Linked DNA regions of Homo sapiens: region 1 is linked to region 2. A link means that fine-mapping ties the variant in region 2 to the expression of a gene that starts in the linked region. Tissue or cell type: whole blood. Region 2 holds a variant in brackets; the other region holds the start of a gene. Each region is shown on its reference strand, or each on the opposite one.

What was found.
Region 1: it holds the start of CTSG, and the variant in region 2 is fine-mapped to the expression of CTSG in whole blood (TOPMed, PIP 0.97).

The regions. Positions count from the first base shown.
Region 1 is chr14:24,571,075-24,581,210 of GRCh38, reverse strand. CTSG (cathepsin G) reads left to right here and starts at 4,961. Exons shown (of 5, transcript NM_001911.3): 1 at 4,961-5,042; 2 at 5,799-5,946; 3 at 6,401-6,536; 4 at 6,712-6,966; 5 at 7,401-7,693. The coding sequence starts at 4,988. The coding sequence ends at 7,574.
Region 2 is chr19:830,530-840,665 of GRCh38, reverse strand. It overlaps AZU1 (azurocidin 1), which reads right to left. Exons shown (of 5, transcript NM_001700.5): 4 at 9,725-9,958; 5 at 8,648-8,950. The coding sequence ends at 8,789. Among named protein-coding and RNA genes, the nearest start is that of PRTN3, 5.4 kb to the left of the region's middle. The variant G/A (reference allele first, on the strand shown) is at 4,012.

The DNA of each region.
Region 1 (10,136 bases), not on the chromosome of region 2:
ATGTATCTGGTAGAAATTTGCACCCGATGTTTCTCTAGGGTATATACCTAGGATTGGGAAAAGAGCCAACATGGTAGCTGCAACTGTTATTGCACTTTTTTCTTTTTTCTTTCCTTGAGACAGGGTCTTGTCTTGTCACCCAGGCTGGAATGCAATGGCACAATCATGGCTCACTGCAGCCTCAACTCCCACTTCAGCCTTCCAAGTAGCTGGGACTACAGGCACATGCCATCACACACAGTCTCGAACTCTTGGGCTCAAGTGATCCCCTCACCTTGGCCTCCCAAAGTGCTGGGATTACAGGCATGAGCCACCATACGTGGCCTTCATTGTGCTTCAAATGGGTGCTTCTCTAATATCTAGTCAGAGTAACACTTTTTCATGTTTATTGACCACTTCGATTTCCTGTTTTGAGATAAAACTGTTCAAGTCTTTTGGCTATTGTTTTATTAAGTTAATTGTCTTCTTCATTGCAAGTTTTTGTTTTGTTTTGTTTTGAGAGTCTCACTTTGTTGCCCAGTGAGGCAATCTCCACTTACAGCAACCTCAGCCTCCCCAGTTCCCCAAGCGATTCTCCTGCCTCAGCCTTCCGAGTAGCTGAAGTTACAAGTATGTGCCACCATCCTGGCTAATTTTTTTGTGTATGTTCCTAGTAGAGACAGGTTTTCACCATGTTGGTCAGGCTGGTCTCCAACTCCTGACCTCAAGTGATCGACCCGCCTCGGTCTCCCAAAGTGCTGGGACATGGGTGAGCCACTGCACCTGGCCAGATTTCTGAGTTCTTTATGTAATTTGAATATAAGCCCTTTGTTGTTTATGTGTATTTCAAGCATCTTTGCCTACTCCATGAATGGTCTTTTGTTTCTCTCAATTTAGATGTGTCAAATTCATCAGTCCTTTTCTTCATTATTAGTACTTTATATACAGTACTAAAATCTTTACCTATCATGAAGATATTCTTCCATTATATATTCAAATCATTATTCCTACTTGGATCCATAATCTACCTAGAATAGGTTTTTTGATATTTTGGGAGAAGAAGGTCAAGTTTTATTTTTCCACATAGAAAATATTTGTCTCTATAGGACACCATAAAGGCAATTTATTATCCCAGTACCATTTATTGGGGATAAAAAAAGAAAATAGTCTTTTCCCTATTATGATGAAAGATGCAACATCCATCATAAATCAATCCATCCATGTGTATGTCAGCGTCCACATGCGTGTGGAGTCCTTATTTCTGGTCCATTAGTCCATGTTTCTATGCCTCATCAATACCACGCTATCTTCATTCCCATGGCTTTGTTTGCAAAAGCAAGTCTTCCATCTTATTCTCATTCTCTAATGGTGACCTGGCTATCATTAGCCTTTTGTTTTCCAAATATACTTACAATCAGTTAAGTTCTATAAAATACCGCTCGGTGCAATGAATCTATATAGATCAATTTTGGGAGAGCTGACATTTTTACAATATTTAGTCTTCTTCCAATCTATGAACATGGAATCTCTTCATGTTTAGGTCTTCTTGAATGTCTCTTCATTCAGTTTTATAATTTTCACCAAAGAGGTCTTTCACATATTCTTTTAGATTTACATTTAGTTATTTGATCATTTCCATGCCATTTAAGTATTACTTTCTAAAAATTTCTTTCTAACAGTGTTGCAGTACATGTAGAAATATGATTAATTTTTAAATTGATTTTTTCTAGCAAATCTGTAAAACTCTTATTAATTATGGTAATTTACCTGTAGATGATTTTGGATTGTCTACGTATACTATCACTTCCTCAAATCATTACAATTTTGTTTTCTCTTTTCCTGTCTTTATACCTTTCATTTCCATTTCCTACCTAACTGCACTGGCTAAAACTGCTAATGTACTGTTTGTTGAACAGAACTGATAATAATTTGTATTCAGGCATTATTGTAATGTTTTGCTCTCAAAAAAAGGTTTTAACACTTTTCCATTAGGTATAATGATTGCTGTGGGAATTTTGTGATAACTTCTATCAGATTAAAGACACTCTTTTTATTCCTAGTCTGCTAAGAGTATTTTTTAAGTAAATAAGGGTAAATTTTAGGCCTTCATTGTTTCAATTAAATAATCACATGATGTTTCTTCTTTAGTCAGTTCATATGATGTGTTACAGCAATTTTGCTTTTCAAATGAAAAGTCAACTATGTGTTCCTAGAATAAACCCAAATTACTTATGATATATTAATATCTATTTGCTTATTGATTGATTTGGTTTGCATCAATATTCAAAAGTTTATTGACCTATAATGTTTCATTTCTATATTGTCTCTATTGGGTTTGGCATGGAGGTTATGCTAGTCCCATAAAGGGAAGGGTAGCATCCGTTCTTCAGAAGAAACTATATAGCATACTTTAAATATTTTCTACAGATTTCTCCTTAATGTGGTCATCAAAAACAAAAGTTGAAATTTTGTGGATTCAGCACATTCCCTTGGAACAATAGCAGCTTCCTAACTAGACTCTCATTATTCCTTCAACTTGATCTGATAGTCACTTCAATGCTGGTAGTTCTTCGAGGTTTGTAAGCTTTTTAGATATCTTAAATAGCTTTGATTACTTTTAATGAGAAGATTGCATGAAATTCTAGGTCACTATTAATGAAATTTCCTAATCAATCTTTATTACATGAGTGAATGCATATATTTTACTCCTTTTTTTTCATATGTGCAGGTTTTTCTTTATCCCTTTCTTCTATTTTTAAGTTAAACTAACATTTTTAAAACAAAACAAAATGTTGAAAATTTTTAATAAATTAAATTATGCCAAATGCTAAGGCACTAATAAAGGTGCTATACTATTCTCTCTTTGCTCCCTTCTTCTTCACGTTACTTTTCAGATGCATAAAGACGTTTTATAGAGCCTGTACAAGAGAAGAGGTTAAGCTCTGTGCAGCTCTAAAAATAAGTGAAAAAATTATATATTTATGTATAAGGAAAGGAACCCTAATTTTCATGAGATTTTCAAGAGGGCCTATTATACTCCATAAAGACTGGGAATTGTATCTCACACCAATCAGAATGGCTATTACTAAACAGCCAAAAAATAACAGATGCTGGCAAAGTTGCAGACAAAAGAGAACACTTATACACTGTTGGTGGGAGCAGTTCAACCATTGTGGAAAGCAGTATGGTGATTCTTCAAAGAGCTAAAAGCAGAACTACCATTCGATCCAGCAATCCCATCACTGGATATTTACCCAGAGGAATATAAATCATTCTACCATAAAGACACATGCACGCAAATGTTCACGGCAGCACTATTCACAAAAGCAAAGACACGGAATCAATCTAACTGCCCGTCAATAGACCAGATAAGGAAAATGTGGTACATATACATTGTGGTACATATACATATGCAGTCATAAAAAAGAATGGACTCATGACCTTTGCAGGGACATGGGTGGAGCAGGAGGCTATTAGCAAACTAATGCAGGAAACCAAATAATACATGTTAGTTAGCAAACTAATGCAGGAAACCAAATAATACATGTTCTCACTTATAAGTGGGAGCTAAATGATAAGAACTGTGAACACAAAGAAGAAAACAACAGACAGTGGGGTAAGAGGAGGGAGAGGAGCAGAAAAGATAACTATTGAGTGCTGGGCTTAATATCTGGGTGATAAATATGTACAACAAATCCCCGTAACATGTGTTTACCTATGTAACAAACCTTCACATGTACCCCCAAACCTAAAATAAAAGTTAAAAATAAATACCTAAGTAAAAGATTTTCAAAATAAAAGACAGAAAAAAAGAGATTGGGAATTGTATTAGTCTTCAATTCTGCTATTTCTGCAAAAATTATACTGGATTATAACGGTTTTCTGTGCATACACAGAATCTTCTAAATATTTTAAGTGTTTTTAATAATCCATTGTGTTACTCTGCAGTAATTTGCTGTTCTTTTCTCCCATTGTTGAGTATGCGGCTCTAATTCTTTTATAGGTAGCACAGCAATGAATGTACCTCCTTCTCAGAAGCTTTTGCTCCTGGGATTAGGTTGATGGGCCTCTAATGTCACCAGTGAAATGGGATATTAGATATTTTCCAGCTAGGATACGACAGCTCCCAATAAAACCAAATTACTAAGCCTTTTCTGCAAGCAAGGAGCCGTCTGGAACATAAGGACTTTAACCTTGGGTAGGAGACAGGCAAGCAGAAGTCTTCAATTGTGTCACAATTTTCACTGAGGACTCAAGTGACCTAAGAAAGTAATTGTGATTGTCAGAGCCTTGTTCTTCCTTTTCTTTCTCCAGCCGCACGCTTCACCTACTCAGGAGAGTGCCTACGCAATCTGACTTGACAGCTTCTAGAAAGAAATTAGAGCAACAGGGGTCTCAGCAGGGTGGTCTTGGGCCAAACACTGAAAGCAGGCAGGCTTACCCTTTCCTCTTCTGCCCCCTTCAACTTTTTCCTGATGTTCTTACCCACATCCCTCACCACACCACACCCTTTCATTCATCCTTGTCCCAGACTTATTAAGTATATACAGATAAGCAATCCAGGGAACTTGCATTCATTAGGAGAAACCCAGAAATTCAAAAGCAATAATGATCTAATCCCAGAGGAGTAGAAAACAGGAAGTGGGCAGCTGCCAGCTTTCTTGCTTTGCTGGAGTATTCTGGAATTTGATGGGTTGAGGGTTCTGGACACAATGCCCCAAGCCCCTTCCTTGTTGTGCTGGGTTCCTATTTCTGCTCTCGGCACTGACTTAGCAGCTGCTCAAGAGCTCACTATGTTGGCTTGGATTACACGGTCTCACCCACATCTCCGGCAGTTTGTGGGCAAACTTCCTGAGCAGCCTTGGGTGATGAAACCTTTCATGGTAGCAGGAGAATGGGACTGTGAATTCTCAATCCCCTGTCCCCACCCCTTCCTTCCTCTCTCAGGGCCTTAAAGTCTAGGAGGAGGAAGCACAGCAGCAACTGACTGGGCAGCCTTTCAGGAAAGATGCAGCCACTCCTGCTTCTGCTGGCCTTTCTCCTACCCACTGGGGCTGAGGCAGGTGAGTGACCATCCCCACCCTCAGAGGCCTGACCTCATCCCATAGATTCTTGAGCCAAATTGCCTTGGTATATCCTAATTCTGTACTGTTGAGCAAGTTATTTGAATTTGTGTTTCCTCATCTATAAAATGAGAATAATATTAATACCGATCTTGCAGAGTTGCCATGAGAGTTAAATAAGTTAGAGTATTTAAATGTCTTGGAATTGCCCGCACACTATAAGTGCTATAAAAACATGCTTTGTGTAAATAATTTGGCAGCATGTGTCAGACCCTACCTAGGAGGTAAGAATACAGCAATAACAGTACCATCAGCTCATGTCTAGATTTTTAAACACCAGTCCCACGTGGTCTTGAATTGGACTCAGAGGGCTCTGGGAAGCTCCATGAGGATAAAAGTATAAGGGAACTTCAGGAACAATCCTGTACTTACAGCAAAGCATTCTCCTCAATACCTGAGGCTGAAGCTGGCCTTGCCTGGAACAAGGGTTGTTCTCCCTCTTTTGGAGAGGAGGAGGGAGGTGAGGCCTAGGATGGGGAAAAGGGCTCCTTTCAAGACAGCAGTGTTTCCTGTAGAACCCTGGAGCCCCCTCCCAATCTGCTGCCCCATAGACTCCAAGCCTCAGCACCATCTCCTCCCTCTCCTGCACCCTCTCTCCTGCCGTCCCCATCTTCCAGCCTTTCTGGAGCCACCAATCTGGTACCCACATTGCAGGTTCAGCAAGCATAGAGCTAAGTGCCAAATGCTTCCTTCCAGGGGAGATCATCGGAGGCCGGGAGAGCAGGCCCCACTCCCGCCCCTACATGGCGTATCTTCAGATCCAGAGTCCAGCAGGTCAGAGCAGATGTGGAGGGTTCCTGGTGCGAGAAGACTTTGTGCTGACAGCAGCTCATTGCTGGGGAAGGTGAGGAGCTAAGGAACTTCCTGGCCAGCCAGGAACACAGCCCTGCGGAGCTCTTCGGTGGAAGAGCCATCTGAAAGAAGAGTTGTAGCAATGAAAGGGTGAAAGAAAGACCAAGTGAGTCTTTGCGGGAGGGAACAGGCCAGTGTAAATGAGGAGGAAAGGAGGATAAGATCAAAAAGAGCAAGAGGAAGAGATGGAAGACACATATTGGGGCTCAAAATATAAACTCAGGCTATTTATCAACTTAATCTGGGGAAGCAAACCTGAAGGCAAGTACCACCCTGTCATCCCTAGCTCAGAGCTGCTGAGAAAGAGGATACAGCTGAGCCCCAGGGCCCTCCCATCCCCTCGATTCTGGTTAGCTGCAGTCTTGCCCTCCCCGTGCTGTCTGCCTACCCTGCAGAGCTGGTGGACCATAGCTCCTGCAGCCCAGACCTACCTCTTGCTTTTGCAGCAATATAAATGTCACCCTGGGCGCCCACAATATCCAGAGACGGGAAAACACCCAGCAACACATCACTGCGCGCAGAGCCATCCGCCACCCTCAATATAATCAGCGGACCATCCAGAATGACATCATGTTATTGCAGGTACCACCTACCTGGCCCTCTGGCTCCTTCCTAGTGTGTCCGGGGACAATGGAGGAGGAAGTGAGGGCAAGGCTCCGGGGTGGCGGGGAGGGCATGGGATGTGTACTGCACCAGCGACCCCCGAGCCTTGGCTGGAGGCCCCAGCTGAGCGGGAACGCCTACATTCTTCCTCCAGCTGAGCAGAAGAGTCAGACGGAATCGAAACGTGAACCCAGTGGCTCTGCCTAGAGCCCAGGAGGGACTGAGACCCGGGACGCTGTGCACTGTGGCCGGCTGGGGCAGGGTCAGCATGAGGAGGGGAACAGATACACTCCGAGAGGTGCAGCTGAGAGTGCAGAGGGATAGGCAGTGCCTCCGCATCTTCGGTTCCTACGACCCCCGAAGGCAGATTTGTGTGGGGGACCGGCGGGAACGGAAGGCTGCCTTCAAGGTAAGGCATGGGCATTGGCCAACACACCCCGGGAGAGAGGGGCCCGTGCAGAGCCAGGCAGTGCGAACAGATTCCATCCCCACAGCCTCAGCCTGGCAGCCAGACCAGGGTGGGCTGGGGATTGTTTTCCCCATCAACCTGGTCTCTGGGGGAATAGGAGGAAGACCCACAACACATACATAGGCAACATTCTCCTGGAGAAGGGAGAGGTACCTTGACTCAGATTGGGCTGGAGACAGTAATTAAGGCAGAGCTGAAGTCCAGCGACCGAAAAGATCCAGAGGCTTGGCTCCTGTACCCCACCGATCTTCCATCTCACACACACCCAGCAATTGAAGGGGCCCACCCACCCCTGCCTTCCCTGAGAGCCCGGAGCTCAGGGAAGCAGGAGCAGGGAGGCCTGTCTCAGTCTCCCTTCTCCTCTCTACCTACAGGGGGATTCCGGAGGCCCCCTGCTGTGTAACAATGTGGCCCACGGCATCGTCTCCTATGGAAAGTCGTCAGGGGTTCCTCCAGAAGTCTTCACCAGGGTCTCAAGTTTCCTGCCCTGGATAAGGACAACAATGAGAAGCTTCAAACTGCTGGATCAGATGGAGACCCCCCTGTGACTGACTCTTCTTCTCGGGGACACAGGCCAGCTCCACAGTGTTGCCAGAGCCTTAATAAACGTCCACAGAGTATAAATAACCAATTCCTCATTTGTTCATTAAACGTCATTCAGTACTTAGTTTGTTTGGATTGCTACAACAAAATAGCACAAATTGGGTGGCTTATAAATAACAAATTTATTTCTCACAGGTCTAGAGGCTAAGAAGTCTAAGATCAAGTCACTAGCAGATTCAGTGTCTAATTAGGGCCCATTTTCTGGTTCACAGACAACCATCCTCTCCCTGTGTCCACATATGGCAAAAGGGGCAAGGGAATTCTCTGATGTCTCTTTTACAAGGGACCTAGTCTCATTCAAAGAGCTCAGCTTTTACGACCTAATCACATCCCAAAGGCCCCACCTAATGCCATCACATTGGGGATTAGGTCTGGGAAACATAGGGAAACACTGTCTCTACACAAAAATTTTAAAATTAGCCAGGCATGGTGGCATGTGTCTATAGTCCCAGCTACTTGGGAGGCTAAAGTGGAAGGATTAGTTGAACCCACGAGGTTGAGGCTTCAGTGAACCATGCACTCCAGCCTGAGCGACAGAGCAAGACACCATTCCAAGAAAGAAAAAAAAAAAGACTGGCAGGCCAAAAAGACAGAACTGAAATTCCAAAAAAAAAGACCTACTTTAGTGTATGAAAAAGGTGGCATCTCAAATCACTGGGAAACAATGGATTTTTAATAAATAGCATTAGAACAACTAGATAGATATTTGGAGGGGATGGAAGCTATAATTGGATCCATTCCTCACACCATACTTCAAAATAAACCTCAAATGGATCACAGATCTAAATGCAAAAACATTAAACCATACAAGCACTAGAATAAAGAAAAATTAAAGAGATTTTGCTTCTTTAAAAATAGCTAACAAACACCCATGTTAGTAACAGCATTAATCACAATAGCCAAGGATGGAAGAACCATAGCGTCCATCACCAGCCCGCATGCTTGTCCTAAACCTTGTGAAAGAAAATAGAATCTCAGGACCCAAACTTCACTATTCCAAAGGGAAAGTTAAGCTTGGGAACTGACCCATGGGGGGAAAAAAACTGCTTTCTATTTATTTCCAAACAGCTATAATCCACAATCCTGTGGCATCACCTCATTTCCTCTACTTGCTTTTCCACATGTTTACTTTATCTTGTGTAAGATGTAGATTTACTGAGGCTAATCAGAACCTCACAAGAACATAACCATCTGCCTGAAGTCCTACTCTCTCTCCCATTTTTACCTTCCTGCTTGCTCTTTCCCCTTTAAATACTGAAGTTCCTAAAACCCTTTAGGGAAAAGCACAGGTCATAGATGCTCCTGTGGCTTGTATTTTTTCCCCAGGTGCATCTTCAACCTTGGCTAAATAAACTTCTGTTAGATTGAGACCTATCTCAGTCACTTTGTGGTTTATAGCCCTTCCTTGCGCTATACCAACCCCACTGTACTTATAAGCCAGCATTTTCCTCACCAATGTGATGAAGATCTGTCTGAGAACTTTTGATACTCTGAAGGTATATAAAACACCTCACAAAATGTTGACCTAAATAACAATACATTTGCCCTGAAGATTAGCCCATGACTGTCTACATCAATATTATATTCAAACAAAAGATTACTGAAATCACATAATTTAAAATTAAGCTTTAAACACCTGCTGAAAGTAACTACACAGAATCAGTCAGGAGGTTTTCCTAGGTAAGTAGAAATGTTAATTACTCCTTTCAGTGTGACATTTACCATCTGAACTTTTGCAGTTTTCCTAATCTTAAATGAAATAATCCCTGAACAGACATTTTATCAAATCCAACAGGCTATATACAGAAATGCTTTGATGAATTTGACCATTATTTTATGTGTATCTCTTATCAGAAAGTTATTTGTCTAATATTCAGTGTAAGCCATTTATCAACAAAATTTTAATCAATAATACATCTTTAACAATCCTCAGTCATTCTCTCTGTATTTACTAACTGCCTACCCATAAGAATTATCTATTACTGGCATGCTCTGGGGGATAACAGTCTCATTATTAAATGTTTGCACTGACAAATGGAAAGAATACTTGCTAGTAGAAAAGTCCCCCATTCAGCCCTTCCTCCCTGTGGCATTTACTTAGGGCCTCAGAGCACTGCCCAGTCTCAGGACTCAGTCCCCAGGAAGCCCCGAGGGCATTCATCTCATCTTCAGGTCTTTCTCTGCCAGTCAGCACTTCCAAGGCAGCTCTTTGTCTCTGCTGCCCTACTGAAAAGGTCTCTACAGACCCCAGGGTACTCACCTCCAGAAGGTGACCATCCCAGAAGCCAGATCCACCACTTCTAACAAATCTGCACTCTTCCCTGTTGAGTAAACCTCATCAGCAGAACTTTGGCAAGAAAGCATTTTGCACAATGAAAACCAGTGCAAAAGAACACAATTCTTTCTTTTTCCACGTGCAGACTTTGTGCGTTAGAAGCCTTATCAACTTGAATGGAAAGTCATAAAATTATGGTAAGCTCAGGCACAGAAACCTCACTGGGAACTTC
Region 2 (10,136 bases):
TCCCGTGGGTGGGTGAGCTGGAAACGGACAGACAGCAGGACGTAGCAGGGGACAGGATGCAGAGCTCGGGAAGGCAGGGCCCCACCACGAGTGCCCTCAGTGCCTCACCTGAGGCCCCAGCGAACATCCTCCTGCCAGTTTTGTCTGGGGGTTTTCTTCCCCCTTTAAGGCCAGGATTCTCAATCAAGAGGTGATTCTGCCCCCAGGGGACCCTGGGCGAGGTCTGAGGACACCTGTGGCTGTCACGAAAGGGGAGCTCCTGGCATGGAGTGGGTGGAGGCCAAGGATGATGCCTAGCACCCTGCAGTGCCCAGGACGGGCCTGCCCCAGAGAAGGATCCAGCCCCGATGTCCACAGGGCCCAGGGGAGAGACCAGTGTTCATTATTTGGGGAAAAAAATGGCCAGGTGCGGTGCCTCACACCTGTAATCCCAGCACTTTGGGAGGCCGAGGCGGGTGGATCGCCTGAGGTCAGGAGTTCAAGACCAGCCTGGCCAACATAGTGAAACCCCATCTCTACTAAAAATACAAAAATTAGCTGCGCGTGTTGGCGGGCGCCTGTAGTCCCAGCTACTCAGGAGGCTGAGGCAGGAGAATCACTTGAGCCTGGGAGGCGAAGGTTGCAGGGAGCCAAGATCGTGCCACTGCACTCCAGCCTGGGCAACAGAGCAAGACTCCATCTCAAAACATAAATAAATAAAAATAAAAAATAAAAAATCCAGTCTGCCCCCTGCTCACACCGGACACCAGAATAAACTCCCGATGGGGCGTACGGCATAAACCCGGGGGACCCCAGCTCCCGGGACTCGCCTCCTCTCTCCCTCCCACTCAGGGTGTGGATTTCAATGTGTGCAGCCTCCTGGGACCTCAGCAGGGCAGAGGATCATGGGACTCAGAGTCTCTTGGGGTCTGTGGAATCCTCTAACCCTGGGGTGATTCTGCCCCCAGGGGTCCCTGTGTGAGGCCTGGAGACATCCGTGGTTGTCACGACTTGGAGGGAGCTCCTGGCAGGGCCCTGCAGTGCCCAGGATGGCCCCGCCGCAGAGACAAATCCAGCCCCCATGTCTGCAGTGCCGGAAACGGGGGAAAGCCGAGGACAGAGGATAAAATTATTTATTTATAACTGAACGGTTTAAACCTACAGTGAAATGGAGAGAAGCACTGAATGAACTTGGAGGCCAAAAAGAAAAAAAGCTTTTTAACGTTTCATTTGGAAAGGATTTCACGCTTACAGAAGTCCAAAGGGTCCAAACTCCCTCCCCGCTCCCCAAACTCCCTCCCCCGGCCTCCCTCCCCCAGCTTCCCTAAATTCTGTCCTCTTGCTCAACCCTCCAGGCTGTGATCGAAGCCAGGGCGCGAAAGTTGATTCCAAATGGCCCCCTCTGCCCCAGCCCCCTGAGTATCACCAGCCACCCTTTGCTGGGTCCTGGGTACACAAGCCACCCATCTTCAGATGTCAGGGTCTCCTCCAGCGGGCGCAGTCCCTCTGCCCTCCCTCAGCCCTTGGGACCATTGAGGAGAGCTGGTGGTCACTCTGCAGAGCGTCCCTCCGTGGGGATGGTCCTGGGTGGCCTCAGGACTCAATGGAGGGAGTCCCGGGCGTGGCGTGTGTCTGTCTCAGGCCCCCCACGTCGAAGCCCATGGCTTCGGCCTGTCTCGTGCTGATGGTAATAACCTTGACCACGTGGTCAGGGCATCTGCCGGTTCCTGCACTGTCCAGTTACTGTTTTCCCCTTTGGATTTTTTTTTTTTTTTGAGACAGAGTCTCGCTCTGTCACCAGGCTGGAGAGCAGTGGTGCGATCTCAGCTCACTGCAATCTCCGCCTCCCGGGTTCAAACAATTCTCCTGCCTCAGCCTCCTGTATAGCTGGGATTATAGACGCCCACCACCACGCCTGGCTAATTTTTTTTTTTTTTTGTATTTTTAGTAAAGACGGGGTTTCACTATATTGGCCAGGCTGGTCTCGAACTCCTGACCTCAGGTGACCCGCCCGTAATCCCGCCAAAGTGCTGGGAACACAGGTGTGAGCCACTGCACCTGGCTATATTAATGTATATAACATAGATGTATACATAAAATATGTAGCATGTATATTATTTACATTATATAATATATAATATTTTAAAATATACATATATATTTTTTGAGACAGGGTCTGGCTGTGTCACCCAGGCTGGAGTGCAGTGGTGTAATCATGGCTCACTGCAGCCTCGACCTCCTGGGCTCAAGCAATTCTCCTGCCTCAACCCCCCAAGTAGCTGGGACCACAGGCATGCTCCACCATGTCCAGCTAAAGTTTTTCTTTCTTTTTTTTTTTTTTTTTGGTTGGCTGTTTAATTTTTTGTAGAAATGGGGTCTTGCTATGTTGCCCTGGCTGGTCTTGAACTGCCAGCCTTCAGGGACGCTCCTGCCTTGACCTCCCCAAATGCTGGGATCACAGGCATGAGCCACCATGACCGACCTGATGTGTATTAAAGAACTAGAGCTGTGGGCCGGGCGCGGTGGCTCACGCCTGTAATCCCAGCACTTTGGGAGGCCGAGGCGGGCGGATCACGAGGTCAGGAGATCGAGACCATCCTGGCTAACACGGTGAAACCCCGTTTCTACTAAAAATACAAAAAATTAGCCGGGCGTGGTAGCGGGCGCCTGTAGTCCCAGCTACTCGGGAGGCTGAGGCAGGAGAATGGCGTGAACCCGGGAGGCGGAGCTTGCAGTGAGCAGAGATTGTGCCACTGCACTCCAGCCTGGGCGACAGAGCGAGACTCCGTCTCAAAAAAAAAAAAAAGAAAAAGAACTAGAGCTGTGGCCGGGCGCGGTGGCTGTTGCCTGTAATCCCAGCACTTTGGGAGGCTGAGGCAGATGGATCACAAGGTCAGGAGTTCAAGACCAGCCTGGGCAACATGGTGAAACCCCGACTCTACTAAAAATACAAAAATTAGCTGGGTGTGGTGGCAGATGCCTGTAATCCCAGCTACTTGGGAGGCTGAGGGAGGAGAATTACTTGAACCCGGGAGGTGGAGGGGGCAGTGAGCTGAGATCGCGTCACTGCACTCCAGCCTGGGCAACAGAGCGAGACACCGTCTCAAAATAAAAGGGTTATTCTCATTCAACAAAAGTGCTGTTGGTTTCAGCCATGAGTCAGCTCATGCTGAGGCAAGCTGTTTGGCTTGCAGTCCTCAGTTTCCCCACCTGTAAAGGCGGGTGAGGACGGTAATAGGACCTTCTGCAGGGCAGCAGTGGGGGTCGACGGATTTGAGGTTTCTTGATTTGTTTTTACATGGAGTTTTGTTCTTGTCACCCAGGCTGGAGTGCAGTGGTGTGACCTTGGCTTCCTGGGTTCAAGCCATTCTCCTGCGTCAGCCTCCTAAGTAGCTGGGATTACAGGCACCTGCCACCACGCCTGAATAATTTGTTTTTTGTATTTGTAGTAGAGACGGGATTTCACCATGTTGGCCAGGCTGGTCTCGAACTCCTGACCTCAGGTGATCCGCCGGCCTCAGCCTCCCAAAGTGCTGGGATTACAGGCGTGAGCCACCGCGCCCTGCCTTTTTTTTTTTTTAATAGAGAGGGGTCTTGCTATGCTGCCCAGGCTCGTCTGGAACTCCTGGGCTCCAGCGATCCTCCCCCACCATCTGGCCACTACCGAATTGTTAAGTGGGTGAATTGCTTGGTGTGTGTGAAGGACATCTCAATAAAGCTGTCAACCAAAAAAAAAAGAAAAGAAAGAAAAGAAAGACCTTGCACACACACTGCTGGATCTAGCACACGCGAGAGCTGCCCAGGGGGCTGCCCCGTCCTCACTGTACGTGGGCTTCCCCGTCAGGATCTGTTTCCACGCAAGGCTGATGCAGCCCGGTCCTGACCGGAGGGTCCCAGCACCGTCCCGCGGGCCCCGGGTCCTCCAGGCTCCCTGTGCGTCCTGGGGGGACTCAAAAGCACAGGCCAGGGCGACAGGAGCGCTGGGAGCGGGTAGCAGGGAGGGTTCCGTGGAACACGCTGGGGGCTTTGCAG[G/A]GGTCGGCCTGGGGGCAGAGGTAGTGGGGGCCCCTTCCTGTACCAACCGTAGGTGGCGCAACTGGTAACGGCTTCAGGGATCGCAGGTGACGCCGCCTGGGGCCGAGGGGAGACCCATGCGGGGCTCAGGCCTGTGTCTCTGTCTCTGTCTCTCTCCCCGCCCTCTTTCTGTCTCCTTCTCTGTCTCTGTCTCTGTCTCCCTCTGTCTCTGTCTCTCTGTCTCAGTCTGTCTCTGTCTCCCTATATCTGTCTGTCTCTTCATCTCTGTGTCTGTGTCTGTGTCTCTCTGTGTCATCGCTGTCTCCCTTTTTTAAAACTATCTCTCTCAGTCTCTCTGGCTCTGTCCCTCTTTTTCCGTCTCTCTCTGTCTCTGTGTCTCTGTCCGTCTCTGTCTCTCCATCTTTCTTGTTCTCTCTTTTTTCTCTCCTCTACTACTTTCTTTTTCTTTCTTTCTTTCTTTTTTTTTTTGAGATGAAGTCTTGCTCTGTTGCCCAGGCTGGAGTGCAGTGGCGCGATCTCGGCTCACTGCAAGCTCCGCCTCCTGGGTACAAGCGATTCTCCTGCCTCAGCCTCCTGAATAGCTGGGATTACAGGCGCCCACCACCACACCCAGCTAATTTTTGTATTTTTAGTAGAGACGAGGTTTCACCATGTTGGCCAGGCTGGTCTCGAACTCCTGACCTCAGGTGATCCACCCGCCTCGGCCTCCCAAAGTGCTGGGATGACAGGCGTGAGCCACTGTGCCCGGCCTCCTTTCCTCTCCTCTTTATAAAGGAAAACCTTCTCTCCCTGAGTGACGGGAAGATGCTGGTTCGCCCGCGAGGCTCAGCCTCGCAGTGGTTGTGTTTTGTGTGTGTTTTGTGCCGACCGTTGACCTTCCCGTGTGCTTGGGGCCCTGACACCCGGCCGCCTTCCACACCCCCCAGGCCCATCCACCCACCTGTCCCCTGATGCCCCCTCTCACGGGATTTCTAAGCCAAACCCAGACATTTCACAATCTGTTCTGAGAATTCCGAAAATTTAAAAACCTTCTCAAGACACCAGTGAGTGGGGCCGGGTAGAGGGGCACAGAGAAGAAACAGAACAGCTGTTTTTAGCCTGAGCACAGCTGGCTCTGCCAGGAGGCTGCACGCGTCGGGGCCTGGACGGGGCTGCGGGGTGGGGGCTGCACGCACGCGTCGGGGCCTGGACGGGGCTGCGGGGTGGGGGCTGCACGCGTCGGGGCCTGGACGGGGCTGCGGGGTGGCGGGTGGGTCCACGGATGGGACCCCGTTCTATGTCCCTGAAATCCGAGGCGCGGAGAGGACTCGGGCTGCCCACAGTCACACGCAGCCCCGCTCTGAGGGCCCTGCAGCCGGGCTGACCGCTACCAGGGGAACCCGAGAACAGCACCCTTGGGCCCAGGAAGGGGGAGCAGCAGGGGCTGGGGGGAGGAGGGCAGAAACCGCCTCTGGCAGGAATCCCGCCCCAGCAGGGGGACCCTCATGACCGAACGTGGCCCCGAGCCGGGGGCACCAGAAGCCCTTGAACCCCAATCCTGCCTTGGGCCTCAGTTTCCCCATCTGAACAATGATCAGGCAGTGGCTTTGCCTCTCCAAACCCAGGCAGGGCCCCCACCGGCTGGGCTCCTGAGCCATTGGCACCCCTCTCTAGGCTTAGTTTCCCCCTCTGTAAAGAGAACCCGTTGGCCGGGCGCGGTGGCTCACGCCTGTCATCCCAGCACTTTGGGAGGCTGAGGCGGGCGGATCACGAGGTCAGGAGATCGAGACCATCCTGGCTAACACGGTGAAACCCCGTCTCTACTAAAAATACAAAAAATTAGCCGGGCACGGTGGCGGGTGCCTGTAGTCCCAGCTACTCGGGAGGCTGAGGCAGGAGAATGGCGTGAACCCGGGAGGTGGAGGTTGCAGTGAGCCGAGATCGCGCCACTGGACTCCAGCCTGGGCGACAGAGCGAGACTCCGTCTCAAAAAAAAAAAAAAAAAAGGACCCGTTATACCCACAAAAGAAAGAAAAGCAGCAGTTCCAACACAAACCTGCACATGAGTGTCCACAGCAGTGAGGGTCACAGTGGCCGGAAGTGGAGAGGCTCAGACGTCCATCCACAGGGGCCTCGAGCAGCACAGTGAGGCCTCCAGGCGTGGCAACAGGACGCAGCCGTGAAACGGACCCAGCTGTGACCCGACCACGGCGCGGAGGCACCGTGAGGACGTCACGCTCCGTGAGAGACGCCGGACACGAAAGACCACATAGTGTGTGATCCCATTGCTATGAAATGTCCAGGACAAGCCCATCCACAGAGACAGGAAGAGGACGCGTGGGTGCCGCGGACTGGGGAGGGGACAGGGAGTGACGGCTGATGGGGACAGGGATTCCTTTGGCGGTGATGAAATATTCTGGAACTCAACAGAGGTCATGACCACACAACATTGTGAGTGTACCGAAGACCATTGAATTGCACACTTCATTTTATTTTATTTTATTTTTTATTTTATTGAGACAGAGTCTCACTCTATCCCCTAGCCTGCAGTGCGGTGGCTCAATCTTGGCTCACTGCAAGCTCCGCCTCCCGGGTTCATGCCACTCTCCTGCCTCAGCCTCCCGACTAGCTGAGATTACAGGTGCATGCCACCATGCCAGGCTAATTTTTTGTATTTTTAGTACAGACAGGGTTTCACCATGTTGGGCAGGCTGGTCTCAAACTCCTGACCTCAGGTGATTTGCCAGCCTCGGCCTCCCAAAGTGCTGGGATTATAGGTGTGGGCCACCACGCCCGGCTGTACACACTTTAAAAGAGTGAATTCTAAGGCCGGGCACGGTTGCTGAAGCCTGGGAGGCTGAGGCTACAGTGAGCCTTGATCACGCCACTGCACTCCAGCCTGGGCATCAGAGAAAGACCGTGTCTCAAAAATAAATGAAATAAGGTCAGGCGCGGTGGCTCACGCCTGTAATCCCAGCACTTTGGGAGGCTGAGATGGGTAGATCACCTGAATTCAAGAGTTCAAGACCAGCCTGGTCGACATAATGAAACCCCATCTCTACTAAAAAATATATATATATAAATTGGCTAGGCATTGTGGCTCACACCTGTAGTCCCAGCTACTCAGGAGGCTGAGGCAGGAGAATTGCTTGAACTGGGGGCGCAGAGGTTGCAGTGAGCCGAGATCGCGCCACTGCACTCCAGCCTGGGTGACAGAGGGAGACTCTGTCTCAAATAAATAAATAAATGAGATAAAAATAGCTCACTGCATCCTCAACCTCTTGGGCTAAAGTGATCTTCCCACTTTAGCCTCCTCAATAGCTGAGACTACAGGTTCTTCTTCTTCTTCTTCTTCCTTCTTCTTCTTCTTCTTCTTCTTCTTCTTCTTCTTCTTCTTATTATTATTATTATTATTATTATTATTATTATTATCATTTTAAGAGACTGGGTCTTGCTCTGTGGACCACGCTGGAGTGCAGTGGTGCGATCACGGCTCACTGCAACCTCCACCTCCTGGACTCAAGCAATCTTCCCACCTCAGCCTCCAGAGTAGCTGGGACGACAGGTGCCACTTACCCGGCTTTTTTTTTTTTTTTTTGAGACGGAGTCTTGCTCTGTCACCAGGCTGGAGTGCAGTGGCGTGATCTCGGCTCACTGCAATCTCCACCTCCCGGGTTCAAGCAATTCTCCTGCCTCAGCCTCCCGAGTAGCTGGGACTACAGGCGCCCGCCACCACGCCTGGCTAATTTTTTGTATTTTTAGTAGAAACGGGGTTTCACCGTGTTAGCCAGGATGGTCTCGATCTCCTGACCTCGTGATCCGCCCGCCTTGGCCTCCTAAAGTGCTGGGATTACAGGCATGAGCCACTGTGCCCGGCCTCTCCTGTGTAATTTTAATAATTTTAAAAATTATTTTTGTAGAGACATGGTTTCACTACGTTGCCCAGGCTGGTCTCAAACTCCTGGGCTCAAACGATGCTCCCACCTTGGCCTCCCAAAGTGCTGAGATTACAGATGTGACTGCCACATCCAGCCATCATATTCATATTTTATTCTGTATTATTTATATATACAATTATATTTATTATTTCATATTCACGTTTTACTGTTTCTATTGGATCCAAGAGGAGAATGTTCCCCGTTTTCTCCCGTGGTTTTTGTTTTTTTTTGAGCTGGAGTCTCGCTGTCGCCCAGGCTGGAGTGCAGTGGCGCCATCTCGGTTCGCTGCAACCTCCGCCTCCCGGGTTCAGGTGATTCTCCTGCCTCAGCCTCCCAAGTAACTGGGATTACAGGCGCCCGCCATCATGCCCGGCTAATTTTTGTATTTTTATAGAGATGGGGTTTCACCAGGTTGGCCGGGCTGGTCTTGAACTCCTGACCTCAGGTGATCCGCCCACCTCGGCCTCCCAAAGTGCTGGGCGGCATTCACTGTGTGACCTCTGGGCAGCCACCCAACCTCTCTGAACCTGGGCCTCCCCCCAACACCCCGCTGTCGGGTGCAGATAACACCAGCCCCTGCTTCCCGGGCTTTGAGGGAATCTCTGAACATCTGACATCTGCACAGGCAGTGCACCTGCGGTGGGTGCCCCTAAGGCCGGTGAAGGTGCCACTCACGCGTCCCCACAGCCCCCTCCCCCACCAATGAACAGAAACCAGGAGCAGAGGAGAGATCGGCTTCTTTATTACAGCCAGGGCCCCTCTGGCCGGAGCGGGGGCAGGGGCGGGGCCGTGGGAGGTGGGTGCGGAGCGCCGGAGGTGTGGAGGGCGGGGCTGGGCTCCATGGGAGGTCACAGGCCCCCCTAGGCTGGCCCCGGTCCCGGGTTGTTGAGAACACCATCGATCCAGTCTCGGAAGAGCGCCACTCGGGTGAAGAAGTCAGGGCCTCGGCCACAGGGCCCCAGGGAAAAGGAGGCCACGCCGTGGGCCAGGCCCTCGCAGACGAGGGGGGTGCCCCCGTCCCCCTGGGCAGGCAGCAGCTGTGTCAGGGCGTCCCAGGGCCTGGCTCCCACGCCACCCCAGAACTGCAGAGGCCTCTTGCTGCCCCTGGAACCTACAAGTCCTGATCCAGCCCCAGGGCCTTTGCATGGCTCTTCTCTTTCTCTGCCCTGGTTAACTGCTAGTGGACTTTGGGATCAGTTGCTTTCTGGAGCTTCCTGGCACCTCCAGGCTGGGCCAGGTGCCCCTCCCCTGGCAATCACACGCCTGAGTCCCTCAGTGACCGGCTCTACCATGCCTGCTGGGTCCCCAACCCCCAGCACAGACGTGGCTCACAGCCGGCGTTTGATAGCTACTGTTTCTCAGCCAGGCACGGTGGCTCATGCCTGTTATCCTAACACTTTGGGAGGCCAAGGTGGGTCGATCATGAGGTCAGGAGTTCGAGACCAGCCTGACCCACATGGAGAAACCCTGTCTCTACTAAAAATACAAAATTAGCCGGGCGTGGTGGCGCATGCCTGTAATCCCAGCTACTTAGGAGGCTGAGGCAGGAGAATCGCTTGAACCCAGGAGGCGGAGGTTGCAGTGAGCCGCCGAGATCACGCCACTACACTCCAGCCTGGGCGACAGAGCGAGACTCTGTCTCAAAAAAAAAAAAAAAGATACTGTTTCTCCTACCGTGAAAATGCTCAATCCTGGGGCCCCCCTGCTGTGCCGCCCTCAGCCTGCACTTGCTTTCTCCTGCCACGGAGAGCTCAGTACCTCTCAGGACCCCTCCTCCCGCCACAGGGAGCACTCACATTGCAGATGCCACCGCGGCGGGTGAGCACACCGGTGCACACGTTGTTGGGGCGACACTGGTCCTCGGGGGTCACAGTCACGTTGACAAACCTGGGAAAACGGGAGAGACGCCCCCCACTGCGCTGGCTCCCCCAGCCGGCCACCTGGCATCTGGTGCCGGCTTCCACCGTGGCGTTCTGCAGAGGCAGTGGCAGTATCGTCACGCTGCTGGTGAGGTTGGCCTCACGGTCCAGCTGGGGAAGGAAATGGAGTCAGGGGAGGGTGGCCCTGGGGACTGGAGCCTCATGGGGACCCCTGGGAGCAGAAGTGTCAGCGACATTAACTGTAGTCTGTAAGTGGTTTGCGTTTAATTCCCGGCAGGGGCCGGGTGCGGTGGCTCACGCCTGTATTCCCAGCACGTTGCGAGGCCAA